3 separate regions of the Homo sapiens genome follow, and regions 1 and 2 are each linked to region 3. The links come from fine-mapping of genetic effects on gene expression. A gene starts in region 3. Each other region holds a variant in brackets. All regions are shown on one strand. Distances are between the middles of the regions. Region 1 overlaps LINC03075 (long intergenic non-protein coding RNA 3075). Region 2 has its middle 24 kb from the start of LINC02848. Region 3 holds the start of ZNF727 (zinc finger protein 727).

What was found. PIP is the estimated chance that this variant, and not a neighbour inherited with it, causes the effect.
Region 1: its variant is the best candidate, but not a certain one, in a credible set for the expression of ZNF727 in whole blood (INTERVAL, PIP 0.62).
Region 2: its variant is the best candidate, but not a certain one, in a credible set for the expression of ZNF727 in whole blood (TOPMed, PIP 0.68).

What each region holds. Positions count from the first base shown.
Region 1 is chr7:63,365,127-63,373,313 of GRCh38, forward strand. It overlaps LINC03075 (long intergenic non-protein coding RNA 3075), which reads left to right. Exons shown (of 10, transcript XR_002956557.2): 4 at 6,377-6,509; 5 at 6,583-6,740; 6 at 7,870-7,926. It also overlaps the pseudogene VN1R31P. Among named protein-coding and RNA genes, the nearest start is that of LINC03075, 15 kb to the left of the region's middle. The variant A/T (reference allele first, on the strand shown) is at 3,322.
Region 2 is chr7:63,872,242-63,880,428 of GRCh38, forward strand. No RefSeq gene overlaps it. Among named protein-coding and RNA genes, the nearest start is that of LINC02848, 24 kb to the right of the region's middle. The variant A/G (reference allele first, on the strand shown) is at 4,490.
Region 3 is chr7:64,041,950-64,050,136 of GRCh38, forward strand. It overlaps ZNF727 (zinc finger protein 727), which reads left to right and starts at 3,485. Exons shown (of 4, transcript NM_001159522.3): 1 at 3,485-3,675. The coding sequence starts at 3,673.

The sequences.
Region 1 (8,187 bases), 680 kb before region 3:
TATTTGGTCAAATTTACAAGTGAAACTATCTACTGAGCTTTTCTTCATAGAAAAAGTTTAATCTCTAATTGTTTTGGTTCTATTCATATATTCTACTTATTCTTGAACTTACTGTAATAACGTATGCATATTATCCACTAATCAATTTCTAATTTGTAGCATACTATCTTTTTATATTTTCATTGCAATAAAAAGTAAAGGGAAGAATAATGTGGAAAGACAAAGATTTTGGCAATCCATGTTTCCCTAGTGTCTCAGGGTCCTCTGTTGTAGGGAGGAGATTATTGTACTTGTTGTACTTAATACTCACATATGTTCATGAAGTAGATGGGACCCATCATCTAAAGTAAATTAGAGAACTTTGCAAAATGTAACCAAAATAAAAGTTTGTGCCTACCTCTCTTTTAATCAATATTTAGACGGGACAGGAATATAAATTTCAAGAAAAACAAATACATATTTCTTGGAGGCTTTGTTGATTTCTTTTTACTGTTTTTTTCTCTAAACTTCTCTTCTTGCTTCATTTCATTCATTTTATCTTCAATCACTGATACCCTTTCTTCCAGTTGATCGAATTGGCTACTGAAGCTTGTGCATTCGTCACATAGTTCTCGTGCCATGGGTTTCAGCTCCATCAGGTTATTTAAGGACTTCTGTTAACCGGTTATTCTAGTTAGCCATTCGTCTAATCTTTTTTCAAGGTTTTCAGCTTCTTTGCAATGGGTTCGAACTTCCTTCTTTAGCTCAGAGAAGTTTGATGGTCTGAAAACTTCTTCTCTCAACTTGTCAAAGTCATTCTCCTTCCAGCTTTGTTCTGTTGCTGGCAAGGAGCTGTGTTCCTTTGGAGGGGGAGAGGCACTCTGATTTTTAGAATTTTCAGCTTTTCTGCTCTGTTTTTTCCCCATCTTTGTGGTTTTATCTACCTTTGGTCTTTGATGATGGTAATGTACAGATGGGATTTTGGTGTGGATGTCCTTTCTGTTTGTTAGTTTTCCTTCTAACAATCAGGACCCTCAGCTGCAGGTCTGTTGAAGTTTGCTGGAGGTCCACTCCAGACCCTGTTTGCCTGGGTATCAGCAGCAGAGGCTTCAGAACAGCGAATATTGCTGAACAGCAAATGTTGCTGCCTGATTGTTCCTCTGGAAGCTTCATCTCAGAGGGGTACCCGGCCATGTGAGGTTTCAGTCTGCCCCTACTGGGGGGTGCCTCCCAGTTAGGCTACTCGGGAGGCACCCTGTCCGTTCTTGAGGAGGCAGTCTGTCCGTTCTCAGATCTCAAACTCTGTGCTGGGGGAACCAGCACTCTCTTCAAAGCTGTCAGACAGGGACATTTAAGTCTGCAGAGGTTTCTGCTGCCTTTTGTTCCATAACTATAGTTATTAATAATGTATTGTACACTTGAACTTTGATAAGAAAATAAAACTCAAATAGTCTCACCACACTAGGAAAAGGCAACTAGGTGAGGTGTGAGGGACATGTTAATTCGCTTGATTATATTAATAATTTCACAATATATAACTTTATTAGAACATATATGTAAGGTGATACAACTTATACAATTTTTATTTGTCAATCATATCCCAATTAAAATGGAAAAATTAAGTGTAACCAAACTAATGTCTAGCCACATGCAAATTTTATTTAGACCCATTTAAATAAATTCTAGATTTTCAATATAAAATCCAAACTGACATAATTTTTACAGAATCAGGAAAATTCTAATGAGGAAGCATGATATTAAAGATATAATTGAATAGTCATAATACCTAATACCCCTACATAATACCATAATATCCCTACTTATTAAAGTAGGGGTAAATTAAAATATTTTCAAAAGCTAAAATTTTGAGAGATTTGATTACCAACAGGAGCTTAAGAGTACCTTTTAAGAAAAAAGAAACATTTACTAATATGAAGTTAAAATGAAAATTAAAGAGAAAAAGATTTGATATGAGAATATCAATTTATGGTAGATATTGAACTTAGCAAGCTATAAAGTCCTTAGTAATATCAGCTTCAAAAGTATTCATATATAATTTTAAAAGGTGATCTTATACACATTGGTTAAATCAGATAAAAAATGAGCTACTTGAGCAGTTTAAATAATAGCAGATGACTATTTTTCAGAAAACGTTTTTCATCAATAGCTTGTTAAAATTGGTGGCACATCAATTACAATTCTGCAGAATACTTTTTTTTTTAATCAGAACTAATTTGTCCCAGTGGAATAACAGTGGCATATGCATTGAGCACAAGCCTCCGGAAATTCAGGACAACTGGGTCATACACCCATAACAGGATTGAGGATGTTGAAATAAGAAGGTTCATAGGATACATGACCACAAAGCAACTCATAACAGCAGGATGGTCTGGGTGGCCCTTTTCTCTGAGGAGATTCTTGGAGAGATGCTGGTGCTGTGGAGCTGGGATTGCTTCTGATTTCTGAAAAAGAGGATCCACATGAATGCACTTGAGAGCAGCATAACTCTGACAAGGAAGGCATCCCTGGATAATTTCACTCCCTGATGATGAGGTTCATGGGGAAAAGTGAGCAGTGTTTACTGACATTCAATAGATCAGTCTGAGTCACATTTGAAAAATACACAGTGAAGAAGATTAGGCTGCTACTAAAAGACAAATTGAAGAACCAAAAAAGAAGAAAAACATTGGTAATGTAATTTGTAAATTTATGTTTAAACCTTGCCAACCATGAGTTTCTGGGACTGACGGTGATGGCCTGGAGCACACTCAAGAGCCAGGGGGGACAGAGGGAGATGCCTCTTATCACCCTTTTTGTGTAAAATAATAGCTTACATTTAAAGCCATTCCCAAATTCAGTGATTCAAACACAACTTGAGGAAAAAAATCCACTGCAGTAAGGAGCATTAGAATATGACTGAGGACCAAGTGGCAGATGATCAAGTCATGGAACTTTGGCCTGGGATCCAGAAGAAATGTAAAGATTTGAAAGAAAAAAAAAATGGTATTGATGAATAATCCAATGCCAACTCGAAAAATAAAGGCACTTGTTAATGATAACATAAGTAAAAATTGTTTTCATCTTAATGACATAGAAGAAACATTTTTGTATGTCTGGAAGAAACAATATACCTCACATCATCAATGTTCATTCTAAAGTGACATTATCCCAATCATCATTATTTTTATTTTGCTCATTTATTCATCATTAAGCTTATCTCATATGAATTCTTGACAATCTTCATTATTCATCATTAACCTTATCTCATATGAATTCTTAACAATCTACCTTCTGTGTTATTTTGTACAGTAAATAATATATACATTACATGTTGTTTTGGTT[A/T]CTATAACTCTGTAGTATAATTTGAAGTCAGGTAATGTGATTCCCTTAGTTTTATTCTTTTTGTTTTATTTAGTTTTTTTCTAGGTCTTTTAAGGTTTCATATGAATTTTAGAATTTTTTTCTTATTTCTGTGAAGAATGTCATTGGTATTTTGATAGGAATTGCATTGAAACTGAGATTGCTTTGGCTAGTATAGACATTTTAACAATATTGATTCTTCTAATCTATAAAAAGCAAATTAAAAAAAAATTTTGTGTCCTCTTCAATTTTTTAAAAATCAGTGTTTTATAGTTTTCATTATACAGATATTTTACTTCTTTGATTAAGTACATTGCTAGGTATTTCATTTTATTTGTGGCTATTTTTTCTTCAGTTTCTAATGTTACTCATTTCTGTCTCATACCTCATTAGATTGGCCTTTAATGTCCATATTTTTACCAACATTGTCTTCAAAATTATTTACATATTTTCTAAGAAGATGAAAACTTCCTCTGCAGTTGTATTTTCTTCCTGAGCCCTCATCAGAATTCAGCTTGATTACATATTTTTAATATGCACTTCCAAACTCTTTGATGCCTTTATACATCATTCAGTTCCAAAGCTGCTTACACATTTAGGTGTTTATTATATCAGGACCCCACTTCTCCATATCAAAATCTGTATTAGCATCCTTTAGATGCTATAGTAGAATACCATAGACTTAGTAGCTTAAACAATAGGTATTTCTTTCTTGTAGCTCTGGAGACTGAAAAGTCCAAGATCAAGGTGCCAGCTGATTCAATTCCTCAGCGAACTATCTCTTCCTTGCTTGAAGATAGCCACCTTCCCTCTGAGTTCTTGCATGATAGATAAAAAGCATGCTCTGGCTGGGCATGGTGGCTCACACCTGTAATCCCAGCACTTTGGGAGGGCGAGGTGGGTGGATCACCTGAGGTCAGGAGTTTGGGACTAGCCTGGCTAACATGGTGAAACCCTGTCTCTACTAAAAGTACAAAAATCAGCTGAGCGTGGTGGTGTACACCTGTAATCCCAGCTACTTGGGAGGCTGAGACAGGAGAATCGCCACCATGTGCCACCATGCCTGGCTAACTTTTGTATTTTTAGTAGAGATGGGTTTTCACCATGTTAGGTAGGCTGGTCTCAAATTCCTGACCTCAGGTGGTCCTCCTGCCTCGGCCTCCCCAAGTGCTGGGATTACAGGCAAGAGGCACCATGCCAGCCAGAGTTGGTTCTTGATTTTAACATCCCAGTTGGCAAACTCTGCATGTTGATTGTTGAATACTTTTATATTTAATGTTTCTAAATTTTGTTTTCTACATGTCTCATTTTTTTCTTTCCTTAACTGCTTTCTTTTGCATTAAGTAAATACATTTTATCTTACATTTTAATATCTATATGGCTTTTTTCTTTGAGTTATTTAATTACTGTTCAGACTAGGATTTAATACATACATTTTAACTCATCAGAATCTGCTTCAGATTTCTTTTTTTACTAGAAGCATCTATTTATTGCACAGTTCCAGGTTCTTTCCAAATAAGCCACAGCCCAGTGCTTTATTCAGACATACGTACTGTCCAGCCAGTTTGGAAGAAGGAAAGAAAAGTCAGGCACAAATAAAGACACAGAAGTGTTGGGGAAGTGCACTAGAAACCATTTATTTCATTTGAAATGACAGAAGTTTGAGAGGAGGGGGCAAACAAATAAGATCTAATAAGTTAGCTGGATTTGTCAATGATAACATAGTGATAGTAGCTGATTATAGAGTGTACCGGGTTGGAGAAAGCAGGAAGACATATAATTGCAAACATTTGAAGTCTGCAGGGCAGGTGTTGAGTGTGGGAACTGTTTGCTTGAGCATTAGAGATGAAATGTGAGAGAGATACTTCAAAATGAAGCTAAACAGTTTGATCTAGTACCCAGGTAAAAAATGTATTGGTTTGTTAAAAGAAATCTTCACTTTAACACAAGATAGTGTTTGGTTAAGAAAGTGGGCCACAAATATGATAGTCATAACAATTAAGGTTAAAGTTAGAGCTAATTACACAAAGATGTGGCTAGTTGTTGTCACAAAATCAAAACTGAATAGTGTTTAAAATGTGGATGTTCTCCTGCTGGATATGTGAGATCCAGTGTCTCTTGAGTAGAAGGAACCGAGGAGACTGAAGGTTGGGGTTGACAGAACACATCACCATGGGAGGCATGGCCATTTAGAACTCCATGTCTAAATAAGCTATATTGCAAAGAACAGTGCCGATCCTAACCCTCGGTGTTGCTTAAATAGATGGAACCCTTCTGCCCTCCGTAAAGAAAATTGATGAAATAGGTGGGGGAAATAAGTGTTAAAATGCAGCCTGCATTCGAATTCCAATGCCAGGTACCCTGGAGCAAGGCTGTGTCACCTGGAGAACAGAGCATTATTTCTGGGAATGTCAGTCAGAGGAGACTTTTTTTTCTTTCTCAAAAAGGTAGTTATAGTCCAGCTGGGACCCTAAGGTCATTGGATTACAATAATTGTTTTATTTGAATGGCTATGGGTGACACAGGAGGACATTATGCTCAGTGAAAATAAACCAGGCACAGAAAGGCAAATAATGTATGATCTCACATATATGAAAGCTAAAATGTTGATCTCATAGAAACAGAGAAGAAAGGTGATCACCAGAGGCTATGGTCGGGGTGGAATGGGTATAGCAAAGATGTTGATCAAAGGGTACAGGTTTCAGTTAGGCTGGGGAAAGAAGTTTTAGTGATCTATTGTACTGAATGATGACCAGAGTTCTTAATAATAAATTGTATATTTCAGAATTGCTAAAAGAATAGATTGTTAGCAATTTGGTTAGGCGATATATTAATTAGCTTGACTGGATCTTCCTATAAATCAAAATATTACATTGTACCACATAAATATACACAATTACCTTTGCCAATTAAAAAAAGAAAATTATCAGGTGCAAGGCTTCCTACTGCTATAAGAAACTTCAGTATTTACTATGAAAACATTCTTAAGTCACCAGAGTCACACTGGGAAGACTGACATGACATTCTCATTACTTAGACAGGAGTGTTATTGGGAGAATCCTGTTTTGTTGACAAATACTGAGATCATCCAACTCACCAGGCAAAGTTGACTTGTGTAAGTGATCTTCAGATATGAAAAGTGTGGAACCCAGCTGCTCCTCCTCAGATAGGTAAGTTCACTTTTCCCTTTGGTGGCTCCTTTTTCCACCAATCTCAACATCTGCTCTTATCCTTTTTCTACAGGCGACATGACAATTGTAGGCCTGGAGGGAGATGAGTTGACAACATCCCTTCCCTATAACCACTTGTTGGATCTGATCTCACATACACAGACTCACTCCAAAGACTGACCTGGGTGTCTGCTTCTCAGCTTCATTAACAGTGGGTGCTCACAAGTCTAGGTGAGTGGTGAATCGAGATAGAATTTTATTAGCTAGTTGTTAGAATTAGCTCCTAATAATTTCAGTCTGTGGTTCATTGAATTCTAACTATCATAAGAAGGTGTTTCCAGATACAAAATAATTAATCTTATGAAGTAACAAATTTATAGATTTGTAGAAAAACATTTAGATTTTTGGAGATGTTCTACTTGAATTTGTATACATTTGACTTTTCTCAATATAATAGCTGAACTCTCAATATAATTAGCTGAACTACAACTTTCTGCATTTATGTGAAGTTTTAATTTGTAAACACAGAAATCTGAACTAATAAAATTATTTAGTCATACTTCTTGCTTCTTTAAACTTTGAAGATTGCTTTATATAATTCTGATATTTTAGAACTGTTTCAAATTAGGATGTTAAAAACACAAGATATGTCTAACATTTTACAGTAATAAGATTTTAGCAGATACCCAGATTCTTTTGTTTCATTTCATTATAGTAATTGCCAATAGAGATTTTTTTCTTGTGATATTAAAACTATCTGAAAATATAATGTTCTGCTGTTTATATAAATTTCTGTTGAGCTAACTACTACCTTGTATAAATGGGGAGGAGGTGATACTCAGTGTGCTTTGAAATCTTTTCCTAAAGTAAATTGTTTTAGTATGGTATTGTTTCTAAGTAAACCAAAACTTTAAAATACTCTGTGTATTAGTTTGGGTGAGGTTATTTCATGATGAGAACAATGGTATTAAAACAATGGTATTTTCTTATTATAAAACATCCTCTTGGTTTAGTATTTCTGCTTATACCTCTGAAGACTACCAACTGCAATGTGTTCAATAAAACACAGTCCAAAATGTGACAAGTAAATTTGGTTTTTAAAAACACAAATAATCATTGTCTGTATTCAGCAGGCATATCGTCATCAAGCATGTGTGTTTCTTTAAAGTAGAAAACAGAGAGGATGAAATCAGGATAAGTAAAACACAGAAAGGAACAAATGATGATAAAATAAATTTGTGGTCCATGTGGGCATCAAAATATTAAGGAACATACTCAGTGGACAATTGCTATATTTCTGAATATGAATGAATTTGTCTTAAAATAATTTGTGTTGAAAGCCCCTGTCTTCCATGCATAGTGGAGAGAATGTCTGAGAAGAGGAGGACCTTGACTGCTCCTGAACCGGAGACCTCAGGTACACAAGGCATGCCCTCCATTTTCCTCCAAATTCTCCAGTTGAATGCAATTGGTATGACTATGATCTTCTCATTACTGTGATGCACAGATATCTGATACTAAAACACCACATAAGCATTTTCACATAAGAATTGTATATTTCGCTGGTATCTTCTAGGTTGTGTTGATTACAAAAACACATTTCCAAACAGGTTTATAGGGTTTCCCAAAATTTATAACACAAGATTTGTGGTCAAACATTTTGTGTGTTTTTCTGTCT
Region 2 (8,187 bases), 170 kb before region 3:
CTGTGCTGTATTCTGTTTTGTTGGTGTGTAGGGTTTTACCAAAGTTCTTTGATTACCCTACCTTCATTTTGTATTTTGAAATCATTAAGCATGATGTGTCCAATATTGTTTTTCTTTTTTAAATAGTCAGGCTCTTTGTGGTTTCTTAATATTCCATATAATATGGAGGTTGTTTTCCTATTTTTGGAGAACTAAAATTTGGAATTTGAAAGGGATTGTATTGAATGTGTAGATAGATCACTTTGGTCAGTATGGCCATCTTCACAGTATTAAGTCTTCCAACATTTGGACAGGAGCATGCTTAAGAGCGTATTGTTTAATTTTCATATTTTGTGAATTTTTTTGGTTTTCCTTCTTTTAGTGATTTTTAGTTTCATTCAATTTTGGCCAAAAATAACAGTGTGTAAGATTCAAGGTTCAAAAATGGATTAAGACTTGTTTTATGAGATAGCAGGTGTTGTATCCAGGAGAATTTTCTTATGAGCTATTGAAAAGATTGTGTATTCTGCTGTTGTGTGGCATATTCTGTATATGTCTTTTAGGTGTAATTGTTTTACATTGCTTTCAAGTCCTTTGTTCCCTTATTAATGTTCTGTCATGCTTTATTATTTATTACTGAAAATATTAAAGTATTCTCCCAGTATTACATTACTTCATTTCTGTCAATGCTTGCTTTATATATTTGGGAACCCTGATAAGAGATATAAGTAGGTTCCCAGTGAATGAAACATTTTATTATAATTTAATGTCCTTGTGTGTCTATTGTGAGTTTTGACTTAAACTATATTTTATAAAATATGTCAGCTTTTGACTTAATATCATTAGTTCTCCAGCTCTCATTTGGTTAACATTTGCATGGAATAGCTTTTCTCATCCTGCCACTTTCAGTCTATTTTCTGAGGTGAGTCTCTTGGAAACATGACATAGGTGGATTCTGTTTTCTAAATTCAAAAAAGAAATCCCTTTATTTAATATTTGCCTTTTGATTTGGAAAGTTTAGTCCATGAATATTTTAATACTTTTCTGAAAGGAAATGACTTGCAATTGCCATTTTATTGTTTTATTTGACTCTTGTAGCTATTTTGTCCCTATTTACTTTGTATTTATTTGTGTCTTGTTGATATTTGCAGTGACATGCTTTGCTTTTTTATTTTCTATTGTGTATCTGCATTTTCTTTATGGTTCCCATTTAAATTACATAAAATACCTTAAAGTTACAACTGTGTATTTTAAACTAGTAACAACTTGCACTCAGTTGCATACAAAAATTCTTGCTCATTACATCTGCCCTCAACTTAACAATGTCACTAAGTATATCATATATTAATGGGTGCTTTAATTTTCATGATGTCTTTCAAATTTTAAAGCACAATTGTTTTCTGCCTATTTATTATAATACTATAAAGTATTATTTTTGTGTACGTGCATATCTTTCTCAGAGAGTTGCGTATTTTTATATGAGTTGGTTTGTTTTCTAGCATTTTAAATTTTTAATGGGAAAGACTTCCTTTTGCATTTTTGTAGGACAGTTATTCTGGTGATGTACTTTCTCAGCATTTAGTTATCTTGGAAAATCTTTATTTTTTAAAATTTTCTAGGACAGTTTTGCTAAAAGTTTTTTTCCTTCAGCACTTGGACTATATAACCCAACTCTCCTCTTGGGTTTTTGTTAATCTTGCAGGAGTATGCATATAGGTGATACATCCCTCTTGTCTTTCTGCATTCAAGTGCCGAGATTGCAGCATCTGCCCGGCCGCCACCCTGTCTGGGAAGTGAGGAGCGTCTCTGCCTGGCCGCCCATCGTCTGGGATGTGAGGAGCCCCTCTGCCTGGCTGCCCAGTCTGGGAAGTGAGGAGCGCCTCTTCCCGGCTGCCATCCCATCTAGGAAGTGAGGAGCGTCTCTGCCTGGCCGCCCATCGTCTGAGATGTGGGGAGCGCCTCTGCCCCGCCGCCCCGTCTGGGATGTGAGGAGCGCCTCTGCCCGGCCGCGACCCCATCTGGGAGGTGAGGAGCGTCTCTGCCTGGCCGCCCCGTCTGAGAAGTGAGGAGACCCTCTGCCTGGCAACCGCCGCGTCTGAGAAGTGAGGAGCCCCTCCGCCCGGCAGCCACCCGGTCTGAGAAGTGAGGAGCCCCTCCACCGGGCAGCCACCCCGTCTGGGAAGTGAGCAGCGTCTCCGCCCGGCAGCCACCCCGTCCGGGAGGGAGGTGGGGGTCAGCCCCCGCCCAGCCAGCCGACCCGTCTGGGAGGGAGGTGGGGGGGTCAGCCCCCAACCCGGCCAGCCGCCCCGTCCGGGAGGGAGGTGGGGCTGTCAGCCCCCCGCCCGGCCAGCCGCCCCGTCCAGGAGATGAGGGGCGCCTCTGCCCGGCCGCCCCTACTGGGAAGTGAGGACCCCCTCTGCCCGGCCACCACCCCGTCTGGGAGGTGTGCCCAGCAGCTCATGAAGAACGGGCTATGATGACGGTGGCGGTTTTGTGGAGTAGAAAGGGGTTGAGAAATCGGATGGTTGCCGTGTCTGTGTGGAAAGAAGTAGACATGGGAGACTTTTCATTTTGTTCTGTACTAAGAAAAGTGCTTCTGCCTTGGGATCCTGTTGATCTGTGACCTTACCCCCAACCCTGTGCTCTCTGAAACATGTGCTGTGTCCACTCAGGGTTAAATGGATTAAGGGCGGTGCAAGATGTGCTTTGTTAAACAGATGCTTGAAAGGCAGCATGCTCGTTAAGAGTCATCACCACTCCCTAATCTCAAGTACCCAGGGGCACAAACACTGCGGAAGGCCGCAGGGTCCTCTGCCTAGGAAAACCAGAGACCTTTGTTCACTTGTTTATCTGCTGACCTTCCCTCCACTATTGACCTATGACCCTGCCAAATCCCCCTCTGCGAGAAACACCCAAGAATATCAATAAATAAAAAAAAGAAAGAAAGAAAAAGAAGATTCTCTTCTTTTCTGTGACTTTCAAAACTTTGCTTAGATTGTGTCTTGTTATGGGTCTTTTTATCCAAGATGGAGTTTGTTGAGCTTCAGTTTTTAGTATTTTTTTCTTACATTGGATAATTTCTCAGTCATTTTTGTATTCTTCTCCAAAACTTGTTTCTTTTTGTCATTTTGTTGATATTCTTATTTTTCTGATTACACTTAGTTGTCTGTGTTCCCATGTTACACATTGAGCATAACTGAGATGTTTATTTTGATTTTTTTCAGATAATTTATTCATCTTCATTTCTTTAGGGTTGATTTCAGCATACTTGTTTCTTTGATTAGGCTGTGTTAGTCTGATATTTTGTATATATTGTAGTGTTTGGTTGAGATATGTGCATTAAAAATAAAGCCACCCATCACAGTCTGTATAAAGTGGATTTCTTCCCTGCAATTTACCAGGATGGATATTGAGAATTTCTCAAACCATTCTTAAGATGTCTCTTCCCTAGATTTGTGTTCCCCTTATTGAGTTATGCGGGTTTGCCCATGTTTCTGCTTAAGAGCCTGTAATTAGTTGGTACACCTGCTGTTTCTCTGTGGTCCTATAGTCTCTCTGCTGGCCTAAAAATCATTTACCTTTTGTCTCACAGACAGTAACCTGTCATTCAAAGTACAGCACAATTTCTTTCGGCACTCTGTGTCACAGTAGACAGAAACCAGTCTTTGGAAAGATCCCTCAAAGCCAGAAGTATGGACACATGTGCCACTATTTTTTTTTTTCACTGTTGAGAGAGAAGCCAGGCATTGAGGGTTTATACTTAAAGGCATTATTTTGTGTTTAGGAGGAAGTATGGCTGTGGTGGTTAAATGTAACAAATGCTCCTTTGTCTTCTCTGTGGCTCTTGGCATCATTCTCATCTATGGCACTGCAGTCTCTTAACTGGTTTTTAGAGCTCTTACAAAGGCATTTTGGTCAATATATTTTTGTTAAGTTTGCATGTCTATTAAGGAATTTGGGCCTGTAGTATTGTGCCATCTTATTGTGCTTGGTATAATTTTATATTTTGTATTTGTAAAGTATATTCACCTGAGTCTAATAAGTGGTATAATGTATTTTTATTTCTTTTAGCTGTGTTGCCTCATTTTACTCCAGACCTTTTGCCTGAGCAGAGCATAAAACATTCCCAAAAGTGATACTGAGAAGATATGAAAGCTATGGCATTCAAAATTTAAACTTAAGAAAAGACTGGGAATGTGTAGGTGACTGTAAGGGACAGAAAAAAAGTTATAATGGACTTAACCAATGTTTATCAACTACCCTTAGCAAAATCTTTCAATGTGATGAATGTGGCAACGCTTTTAACCAGTGCTCAATCCTTACTCAACATAAGAGAATTCACACAAGAGAGAAACCATACAAATGTGAGGAATGTGGCAAAGCCTTTAACTGGTTCTCAAACCTTATTCAAAATAAGAGAATTTGTACTGTAGGGAAACCCTACAAATGTGAAGAATTTGGCAAAGCCTTTAACCAGTGCTCACACCTTATTGGACATAAGAGAATTCAT[A/G]CTGGAGAGAAACCTTACAAATGTGAAGAATGTGGCAAAGCCTTCAACTAGGGCTCACATCTCAGTGGACACAAGAGAACTCATACTGAAGGAAACCCTACACATGTGAAGAATGTGGCAAAACTTTTAACTGGTTCTCATACTTTTCTCAACATAAGAGAATTCATACTGGAGAGAAACCCCTACAATAGTGAAGAATGTGCAAAAGCTTTTATGCATGGCTCAATCCTTACTAAACATAAGAGAATTCATACTGGAGAGAAATGCTACAAATGTAAAGAATATGACAAAACCTTTAATCAGAGCTCACACCTTATTGGACACAAGAGAATTCATACTGGAGAGCAACCCTACAAATGTGGAAAATGTGGCAAAGCCTTTAACTGGTTCTCAAACCTTACTAAACATAAGAGAATTCAAACTGGAAAGAAACTCAAGAAATGTGAAGAATGTGGTAAGTCTTTGATCAATGCTCAATCCTTACTGAATATAAGATAATTCATGTGATCGAGAACACCTACAATTGTAGGGAATGTAGCAAAGGTTTTAATTTGTGCTCAACTTTTACTGTAAGTGAATTCATTCTGGAGAGAGACCCTACCAAGGTGAAAAATGTGGCAAAACCATTAGTGAATGCTGACATCACAATCTACAGCAGTGATTTCATACTAAATAAAAGTGGTATTAATGTAATGACTGTTGAAGGATTGTTCACAAAATATAACCCTTAACGTGCACAAGATTATTTTAGTGAAGAAAAGCATTACAAATATAAAGGCAGAATACCTTACTTATACCACAGATTTTATTGTACACTGAAAAATTTATACTGAAGGGAAACTTTCCAGGAATTCCTCAAACTTTATATTGGGGAGAAACCCTATGGATGTAATTATGTGGAAAAACTTTTGTTCCATACATATACCTTAGAGAACACTGGAGAGTTTCTACTAGAATTTATTATACAGATTTAGGAAATGTGAAAAAGTAAATTAGAAATCAAGCCAAAGTAAATGTCATAGATTGACAGTAGAAAGCACCAAGGCAGTAACAGTTTGAGACATTACTCTAATCAGTGATGATTATAGAGAATAATTTAAAATAGATTGCTTACTTGTGTGTAAGTTTAAATGGAGAAGGAGATTGATTTTCTCTTTTTTGGACAGTTATAATTACATTCAAATTATACTTTTTGGAATTGAAATAATTATAGTTACTTTGAAAAGCAAATATTTATGTAAGTTAAACTCACAAATGTCTTGATGTTATATCATCATTTCTAGTGCTCATGTGAAAGCACGTGGTTAATGGTTTCTGCATCAGAGCTCTGAGACATCTTTCTCTATTAAGTGGGCACCATTAATACACTTTTCCATGGAACACTAAGGACACTTGAATGTAAGATGCATAAAGAAAATCTAAGTGGAGAGGCCCCTTATAACAATGTTGTAAGTGATTCATGAGGTAGGTGTTCAGGGTAACATGATTCAGCATTGTAGGAGAAGAGAAGCATTTTGAATCTTAGAAGTCAATTGTTTTACCAGTTACACATTAAAATAATAAAATGCAGTGGAGTTTAAAATGCTTTTTGAGATAATGTTTGAACTTAATTTATTTTAATGGAATAAAATTGTTTTTAGTATGTTAAGACTATTTTCCATTGAATGAAATGCATCTTACCACCAACATTAACCTATCCCACCTTACCCCATGTTGTAGGTAACTGATGGTCACAATATACTATTGGATAGCATAGTAGAGGATAACGTAGTACAATGACATCTTTTGTAATCCCTTTTCCCAGTGGAATATTGTTACCAGAGGTAATACATTTATTTTTTCTTCTTTTTGTAACTATAGGATCATTATGGTTATAATAAAGATTACATAAGACTATAATAAAATACATTCACATATGGTTATAATAAAGATTACATAAGACTATAATAAAATATATTCACATATTTCTGAATTCTGAATGACTATTTTAAAATTTTATTCTATATTTATCTGAATGTGCCCACTCTAGTCTGCAAAACACAGATTTTTAGTTTTGATTTACATGGGTTTACATATACAAATATATCACATTATCGATAAACTTCAGGTGTAAGAGATTTGTGGTGAATTTAACTATGTTTGTGTGAGTGTGTACCTATTTTGAGAAGAAAAGACAAACATTAGATCAATACAGATAATTTTTAAAAGTGATGATATTTACTAGGCAGATCAAAACCTCAAAGATTCTGAAAGCAAATCTATTTTCTCTGCTTTGTATTGAATTCATTTATCTAAAATCTTATGGCCCGTTGGCTCAGAATCTCCATGGAAATCCTCTGTTTTTTTCTTGCCTGTTTCTTATGCTGGACCTGCTATATAATTTTTTCATTCCAAGGTTCGTGAAGTATTCTTTATATGATGTCCTCTGGGATTATAAGAATTTTATGAAATTTTATTATTGGATAATTTTATTTTTGGATTATAATCTGGGATTATATAAATTTTATGAAATTTAATCATGCTCAGAAAATAACTTTTAGATGTTAGTGTTTCTACAGCGAGTGTTTTAAGTTACATTCCATCCTTTTTCTTTTAATTGGAGAACTCCATTTAAGCCACTTTTTCTTTCATGATTGTTCTTTTTGTAATGGACATAATCAAGTTTACTGAGCCAATTTGTTTATGTAAACAGTGGAAGGCTTCATACATCATGAGGCTGTTTTGGCACAGAAATGAACACACACAGAGCAGTGCTCGCTGTGTAATAGAAGCTCCATAATTAGCAGTAAAAATGCAGAGGCCCAGGCACTGTCATCTTTGTTCACTGAATTATGCCAAGCATCTAGAAAACTGATGTACACATTGTACCGAAAATATATGTATTGAATAAACAAACCTCAACAAGAACCTCCTCAGATATCTGAGTTGGGTAGGGACTCCTCTTTCAGCATCCTAGGAAGTTTATTCATTCTCTGTCAAGGACAAAATCCAGCTAGAAGAAATCTCAAATGTGGTTTACCAATGCAAACACAGCTTTGCTTTCTAGGTGCTGTTTCAAATGTAGAGGGACACAGGCCAATGAGGCAGGAGAACTTCTTGGGCAAAAAGACAGAAACAATATATATAAGCAACCAGAGCATCCTAAGCAGCCAGGCACTCAGCATCTGCTTGCTGTGTCTTATGCCATTTAGTCCCTACAAGAACTCTATGAGGTTCATCTTCTCACTTTTCAGAGGCATAGACAGGCACAGAGAGCTGCAATGATATCCTTAGTACCCACCTGGTAGCTTGCAGAGTCACCACTGTGTCTTGGAGGAGACAGACACCTACTGAATAGCTTACCCAGGAACTGTGGATTGGTGGTGAAGTCCTGGTAGGAGCCTAGGAGTGTGGTAAAGGAGAAGATGGCTCAACCTGGAAGTCTAGTACCAGAAGCTCATTCAGCTTCTCTCTTGTACCTGGCTGGGAGTGTCGGCATTATTCTCATCTCAAGGTTTAGGGTAGACTTATTTTCATATGCAGGGGAACAAGAAGAGACATATGGTCAATGGCAGCACTGTGCACCACTGGCAGATTGGGGGCTGGGGCTTATACCAGGAAGCTCCTATTTTTCAGAGACTTGTGCATGTGGAGGACACAGTACAGTGTCCATGGTGAAGAAGGTTCTAGGCTTCAAAAGTTTTATATGGGCCAGGCGC
Region 3 (8,187 bases):
TGGCACAGGGTGTTGCCTCCATCCTGGGCACATTTTCCAGTTATCTGGTGATGGGAGACCCTGCCAGAAAGGATTTTGTGGATGGGAGTGAGCCTGGGATGGGCAGGGCTGGAACCAGGATCCTGAGGCTTGGGAGAAGAGAATCCAGGATTACATCCTTAGATCTCAGCACTTGGCAAACCTCCTCTCATGAGAGCCTCACGGCTGCCTCTGTGAACTGAGGCTTCAGGCCTATGAATCTATGAATCTTCCCTATGAATGTTGAAGACTCCACATCAGCCGCCAGTCCCTGTTCTCTAAGTGGTGAAGCTGCAGAGCTGCCTGCTTGCAAAGCCCAGTGAGGTTTGGCCTGAGCTGGACTCAGACTCTCCCTCAGGTGGTGCCAATGGAAGGAGAGTAAACTTCCTACTAACCGGACCTGGGTGAAAAATGTTGAAGGGAACTTGTGGGGAAGAGAGGTAACGGGCTGTTTTCTGGGGCTTTTCTCTTAAGGGCCTCTTCCTGTTCTCTAATGCCAGGCAGCCCCAACCTATTTTCAGAGTTGGATACAGACAGCCCCTCCTCCAGGAACTGGTTTTTGATTTCAGTCCCCTACTCACACCCTCCATTGTGATGGGTCTCTTTATCTGTGTATCAAACCTTTTCAATAAATCTAAGATGCAGAGGATGGAATCTAAATCTGAGATTGCAGAGGCTCCATCCTCTGCATCTTAGATTTACTGAAAAGGTTAAGCTGGGTGCAGTGGCTCATGCCTGTAATCCCAGCGCTTTGGGAGGCCAAGGCAGGTGGATCACTTGAGGTCAGGAGTTCAAGACCAGCCTGGCTAACATGGTGAAAACCCATCTCTACCAAAAATATAAAAAATTAGCCAGATGTGGTGGTATGCACCTGTAATCCCAGCTACTCATGAGGCTGAGGCAGGAGAATCGCTTGAACCCGTGAGGTGAAGGTTGCAGTGAGCAGAGATCATGCCACTGTACTCCAGTCTGGGCAACAGAGCAAGACTCTATATCAAAATAAATAGATAAATAAGTTAGATACACAGAGTATTCTCCCCAGGGGCATCTGTGAGTTTTACCTCTCCACTCTCCCCCAGTGTTGCCCCAGCTACTCACCTTCCTTTTTTTTTTTTTTTTTTTTTGGTGTTATTCACATTTCCCTGGAAGTCAGACAGCCAGTGTTCATTAGAAAGGCCCCTTAGACCCTTAGACTAGGTCCCCTCCCCACTCCCTTCATACTGCATTACTGCCAGGGCCACCAGGGTCAGGGCATGTGCACAAAGCAGGAGTTGGGTCTGCAGCAGGTTCTGGGGTTCAAAGAACAGAACAATGGGAGCTGAGGCTCAGGGACCTCCCGCCCCAACTCTCTCTGATGACAGAAAAACTGGAGGCTCCCATTAAAAAAGTGCTCAGGCTTATATGAGCTGCCTGCCCTTAGAGAGGTCTAAGTTTACTCTCCTTCCATTGGAACCACCTGAGGGAGAGTCTGAGTCCAGCTCAGGCCAAACCTCACTGAGCTTTGCAAGCAGGCAGCTCTGCAGCTTCACCACTCTGGGAACAGGGACTGACGGCTGATGTGGAATCTTCAACATTCATAGGGAAGAGGGGCCTGATGCCTCAGCTCACAGAGGCAGCCGTGAGGCTCTCATGAGAGGAGGTTTGCCAAGTGCTGAGATCTAAGGGTGTAGTCCTGGATTCTCTTTTCCCAAGCCTCAGGATCCTGGTTCCAGCCCTGCCCATCCCAGGCTCACTCCCATCCATATAATCCTTTCTGGCAGGGTCTCCCATCACCAGATAACTGGAAAATGTGCCCAGGATGGAGGCAACACCCTGTGCCATCGGGTGGTGATGGGGATGAGTATCCAATTTTGGGTGTCCATTCAAGGCCTGTCCCCTGAAGTCTCATAATCCCCTGTCTCCTGGACCCTCCTATCTACATCTTCCACTTGAAAAAGCCAAAGACACTCAGCTGCCTCTCCCCAACTCTCTCCCCTCCTCCTAGCTGGCCTCCAAAAACATGAACCCCCATGTTCCCATGTTAACTCTGTGGTGAGATTTTTACAAGTCACAATGTTATGTGGTCCCTGCCCCCACTATTTCCCAAATCCAGCTCTTCCAGGCTTTTACTCAGATTTGTCTTATAGAGGCATTTCAGGGACTGTTGCCACAGGAGGGAAGGGCTACGGGAGAAAGGCCCCTTGCTCTTTTGATGTGGAGGCCTCCGGCTGTGAGGGAGGAGCTCTTCCCTCTGACTCCCTGGAGCTCCTCCCCATCACAGGGACACTGCCTTTTTGCTGCTTTAGCCTCATCTGGCCTCTCTGTGGTTTCGTCTCCAGGGTGGCCAACGTGGATGTCTTCATCTGCCAGAGTCAAAGAAAAGGTCAGTGATACTATGCTCCCTTCACCCAGTTATGCCCAGTTACACTGACCTGGTATCCTGGATAACTGGTGTGAGTAAGCTGGTCCAATGCTCCTGTCATCTCCAGTAAGTTCTGATTCTAGATTGACTCCCTGCTCCAACACTCCCTGTATGTGGAACCTTGGGCATGCAGCCAGGCCTCCCTGAGACTGTTTTCTCAACTTGAAAGTGTGATGGGAACCACCTACCTCACTGGGCCTTGTGAGGACTCAGTTATATGTAGCTGTCACCATTGTTCTCATCATCTCAGGAAGAGCCAGGCACAAGCACTCTCAAAGTTCTTTTCTCCTTTGAAGCTCATCATTAGCCCCTCTCAGTCTCATCATCCCTACATTTTTTGGATAAGAAAACAGAGGCCCAAAGAGGGCAGTGACTTGCCCAGGGCCCTAGAGAAGAGGCCGGCTCCTTCCCACACCTGGAGGCACTGACCCAGCTGACTTTACCCCACAGCCCAGCACTATCCCTGACTAGGGTCCCATCTTCGTTCTCCATGCTTGTTTAGGTCCTCAGGCAGGCTCAGCTTTGGTGGGAAAGAAACAGGGTGTTTTGGGAGGTCTGGGTGAGTGGCACTAACCAATCTGCTAGGCCCTCACCTCTCAGTCTCACTGAGACACTCCATTAATTGGAAGCAGACCCAAAATTGCTTCACAGACTGAAGGTGATAATTGTCTGCAGCCAGCTGGTGCAGCTGCATCTCCTGGAGGACTTTGATCTCCTGCAACTAAAGGGAAAGACAGGATGCTGAGACAGGGCCTGCAGCATACACATAACTATAATTCAGAAATTGATATACACACACGTAAATATAATCAGAAAGTGATATAATCTTATATACAACGTTAAATACAAATGTCCCTCAGGCAGGGCCAGGCCCCCAACACAAGGAGAAATCGCTGCCTGAACATGCTGCAGGCAAAAACCTGTCACTCTTTCCTCATTCAGCCCAGTGTCTCATTACATCTCCTGTCGATCAGGGTCTAAATGTGTGGGGCGGAGAACCCCAGCCAATCAGTGGTGCTAGCGTGAAAACTGCCCAATCAGGTGCGCAGCTAGAGAGGAAGAGGCGGGCTCTTCAATATGGCAAGGCCTTCGTCTCCTAGCTTCTAGGCTCTGAGTCCAGTACCCGTCTGTACTATTCCATCTCTTCCGCTCCATTAGCTCCTCGGTGACTCCACCATAGCCCCTGTTATCCTGTGACCTGCAGGTACTGGGAGATCCATAGGGAAGAAGGCGGAACATCCGGAGGCTGGGAAATGGTGAGTGCGCGGAGTGGGTGTCCCGAGAAGGGGGAAGAGGCTGTTTGAATCCGGTCGGAACTGGCTGCGGTGGGATCTTGGCCTCGCGGTCAGCTCTGCAGCAGCTCCGAGTCCCCGTGGGCACAGTTCAGTCCTCACTTCCCTCCGTCGCAGATTAGGAGCTGAGCCTGCAGCCAAAACCCGAGCGTCTTGTTTTGTCCATAAACGCGAATTTCTTTCCAGCCCAGAGACTTTTTGGGCAGCTCTGTGTCGCAATCCCGAGTCTCCTCCAGATTGTGCGGGGACGTCATAAGACGAGAATCCTCATTCAGGGTCTGGAGTTCCTCCGTGGAAGAAGCAGTGGGCCTTGGGGTCCCCAGTCCCTCCTTTCTCCTTTTAAAAATTGTGGCTTATTTTATTTATTTATTTTGGAGACAGTGTCTCACTCTGTGCCCAGGCTAAAGTGCAGTGGCAAGATTTCGGCTCACTGCAGCCTCCACCTCCTGGGCTCAGATGATCCTCCCACCCCAGCTCCCCAAGTAGCTAGGACTAGGGAGACATGCGCCGCCACCTCGCCTGGTTTTGTGGTTTTGTTTTTTGTTTGTTTGGTAGAGACGGGTTTTTGCAATGTTGCTCAGCCTGGTCTCGAACTCCGGAGCTCAGGTGATCCGCCCCCCTCGGGCCTCCTAAAGTGCCGGGATTACATGCATGAGCCACTGTCGTAGCCTAAATTGAGGCATCTTTAGGATATAGTTTCGAAGTGTTTTCCAGCCCAACTCTCCTATTTAAATGTAATACCCCATGTTGGAGGTGGGGCCTGGTGGAAAGTGTTTGGATTATGGGCGTGAATTTCTCATGAATAGTTTAGCACCATTCCTCTTGGTATTGACCTCTCGATAGTGACTGAGTTCCCTGAAGTTCTTATTTAAAAGTGTATAGCAACCCCCTTGCCTTCTTTTCAAGCTCCTGCTTCACCTTGCACCAGGATTTTAAGCTTCCTGGGTGGGGCCCCCCCAGAAGCAGATGCTGGTGTTATGCTTTCTGTACAGCCTGTGGAACCATGAGCCAGTTAATCCTCTTTCTTATAAATTACCCAGTCTGAGGCATTTATAGTAATGCCAGAACCGATTAATACAAACAGTTTATTTGCACAAACAGCAATTTATGAATCAGAGAATATCCAACTATGGTTTGGGGGCTCAAAGGAGAGACTTGGAACAAAAGGCTTTTGTAAGAGGTATGAGGAAGCAAACCAGATTCAGTATTTGATTGGTTACAGTTATGTATTGCATTTGCACCCATCCGGTGGAAATGTCCTGGTTATGTACTTAGAGCTTTATTGGCAGCTTGTGGTTGGTTAAGCCTAAGTTTTGTGTTTTTTTTTTTTTTCTCAAAGTTAGTAATTTGTAAGAAATTCTTTCGACGTAGTTAGGTTTCCTTAGGCAGAATCCCAGAGCATCATGGCCATTTCAGCCTAATTGCCAGCTATTTAGTTATTTTAATGCTCTACAGGGTCCTTGGTTTTGTCTGCAATTTTCAAATGTTTGGCAAGCAGGGTCTCAAATCCAAAACTTCTCCCAGCCTAACTGTTATAGGGACTGTAGAAAATTCTACATTTCCAATTTCTTTCCCACATTCCCCAATGCCGACTATCCCTGTCCAGATCACATTATCAACTATTAGTCCTTTATTTAATTTCAAAACGGACGTGGCATTTTAATTGTTTATTTTTGTTTAAGAGAGCAGTAGGTGGCTCTTTTTAATTTCGTCTGTTCGTGAACATTTCACATAACAGGAAAGCAGAGAGTAATCACCTGACGCTCTGCGCATCTCCTCTCATCTTCTCTAGGCACGCGCGCCTTCCCAGCATGTCTTTGGATCCTTTGCAGGGTGATGTGTCCTCAGTCACTCTCCTGTATTTTCCTGGTTCCAAGTATTACAGCTTTCTGGGGATGATCCAAGATACCCACAAGGACCATGTCTCTTGGAGTGTCTAGCAAACATTAGCCCCTGGGTCATCTCCTTTCAGAGAAGAGCCTGAGGTATTGGGTGGAGCCTCTCAGGGGAGCAGCTGGATGCCCTCGTGCTGAGAGCAGTTTCCTGATACACCCTTCCTCTAAAAAGCTAACTGCTTTAACATTAAGATTTTTTTCCCTCTCAACCCTAGCTTTCCTTTCTGCAGACACATTGGTGCTCAACCAATCAGGTGCTGGTATTGAGGGAAAAAGGCACAAATGCATCTTGCCCTCTGGTTTCTCTCAGGCTTGTGAAGGAGAATAACTGTCCCAAAGTATAGGAAAGACCCACCCTAGTGAGGGCGTGTATAAATTTGCAAAGCAAAATACACATCTGCCACACAGGGGGCAAGTGCAGTGTCTTTTGGGAGAGTGATGATCAAGTACTTTAGTGAGCAGAATGGGGGTGGGAGAATCTCTCAAGTGATTGACACATGAGTCTAAAACATCTGTGTTCCAGTCAGCACTACTTCACCCCGTGTTTGTTGCCTTGAATATATATGTTCAGTTATTTCAACTTCAGTTTTTCATTAATTGTAAAATGGATTTTATCATTAGAGCTTGAAAGATTAAAAAAAACCACAAATGTTTTCTAAGAGAAAAGAGGTAGATTTCAGAAAAAAAATAGTTTATATTCCATTGGTTAAAAATTCTCATTTACCTTTTATGTATTGCACAGTGAATGTAGTAAGATTCTGAGGTCTGTTCTGTTTTAGCATGATTTCAAACAGAATCCCAGGGCTTAGCTTTGGGAATGCTACCTGGGAAAAGACAGAGGAAATGTCTGTCTCATGATGGTTGCAGAAAAATAAATACATTTTTACAAGAAAGTGTGGTAGATTAACACGTAAATTACAAACATTCATGAAAACATCAGTTTCTGTCTCGTGCAGAGTGGAGAATTTGTGGTAGTGGGCAACTCATTATTTTTTAGAAAAATTTCTACTTCATAGGAAATATTTATGTGTACACAATAAAAAAGTATTTGCCACTATACATACATATCTTTGCTCAGGTAATACGTAACCTAAAGCAATATGATTGTCTAGTATAATTGTAGCCAGTAAATCAGTAGCTTTTTTTGTTTTTAAGCTGCAATGGATGCAACAATTTTATCAGTAATTCTTTCTAAGCTTATAAAAATATTTTAAATCATATGTTCATGGGAAGTGACACCTCACCAAGGCAAAAGCATTTTTTCCAATAAAATGCATGAAGGTGTTCTTTGAAAGCCAGGCAGATAATTAGCAGATTTTTTTCAAACAGAATCTTCATCTAAAACAGATTGGTGGCCAAGCCTGCAGAAAGTTAGAGAGAATTTGTCCAGTGCTGGGTTTTTGCAGAGCTATGTATGGAGAGGGCGGTGACCAAATATTCTAAAAGATATTGGTCTTCAATTTAGTGGCACAGGTATTGGCCAAGAAAATCTAATATGGTTCCTTCCAACAAATTTGAAGTAAATCTTTTTCTTCATAAAAATCTTGTTTAAAAAAGAAAATCAAATTTTATTCTTGTATTATTATATTATTATTAAAGCTAATTTTAAGAAAACCTTATAAACAGATGTATTCAGTCTCAGTCAGCTGACCATACAAGATAAGATTTCTAGAAACATTTTATAACCCCTTAAAATTTTCTTTATTCTCTTTCTCCAACTTTATATATCCATTGAATTTACCTCATTTTCTTTATCTTTTATTCTTTCAATTTTATGTATTCTTTAACCTCTAAACCCAGCAAGATTGCCTTCTCTTTAAGAAAAACCACATCCTCTTGTCTCTTTCTAAAATAATTTTTTTCACCAAGAAACACATCTTATTTTCCTTGTACACTCTGTATGTAAAATTGTTTCTCTCCTTAACAATAGTTTTAGTTATTATATCTTAGCCAGAATTTTAATTTTTAGTAATCTGAATATATAGTGAAAGCCTGAGAAGTAAGCAATTTTAACTATTAGTCATGTAGTAAACATTTAGAAATATATATTTTATAATTTTTAGAAACATAGGATTTTAAATGGAAACATTTTTAATGTGGAATAGGACATACTAACAGATCTAAATATCTTTTGTTTCTGTGAAGAAACCAAAAATATTTAGCTTAAACTTATATTTAAAAATTAATATCTTAGCATTTTATCTTATTTAGAGATAATCTAGATGTTTAATGAATAGCCATTATTTAATGTAGGTTAGCAACAATCTAAGATTATAGTTTCCATAAAGATTTGAGAAACTATTTAAACACATTACAAAACAATTAGTATTGTAAGTTTTAAGCTTTTGTCCCATTTACATCTGTTTTATTTATTTATTCTTAATTATTTTTGTAAAATCTCATGAAACATTAGACTAATACACTCATCTGAAGTTAAACTTTCTATTATCCATTTTTGTATTACTGTATTGGACAAGTTATAAAAGCAATAAACTTTCTACATATATATATTTTTCTATATATATATATTTCGCTGAGAAGTCAGAAGACACTGTTTTTTATTAAATCAACAAACTAGTCA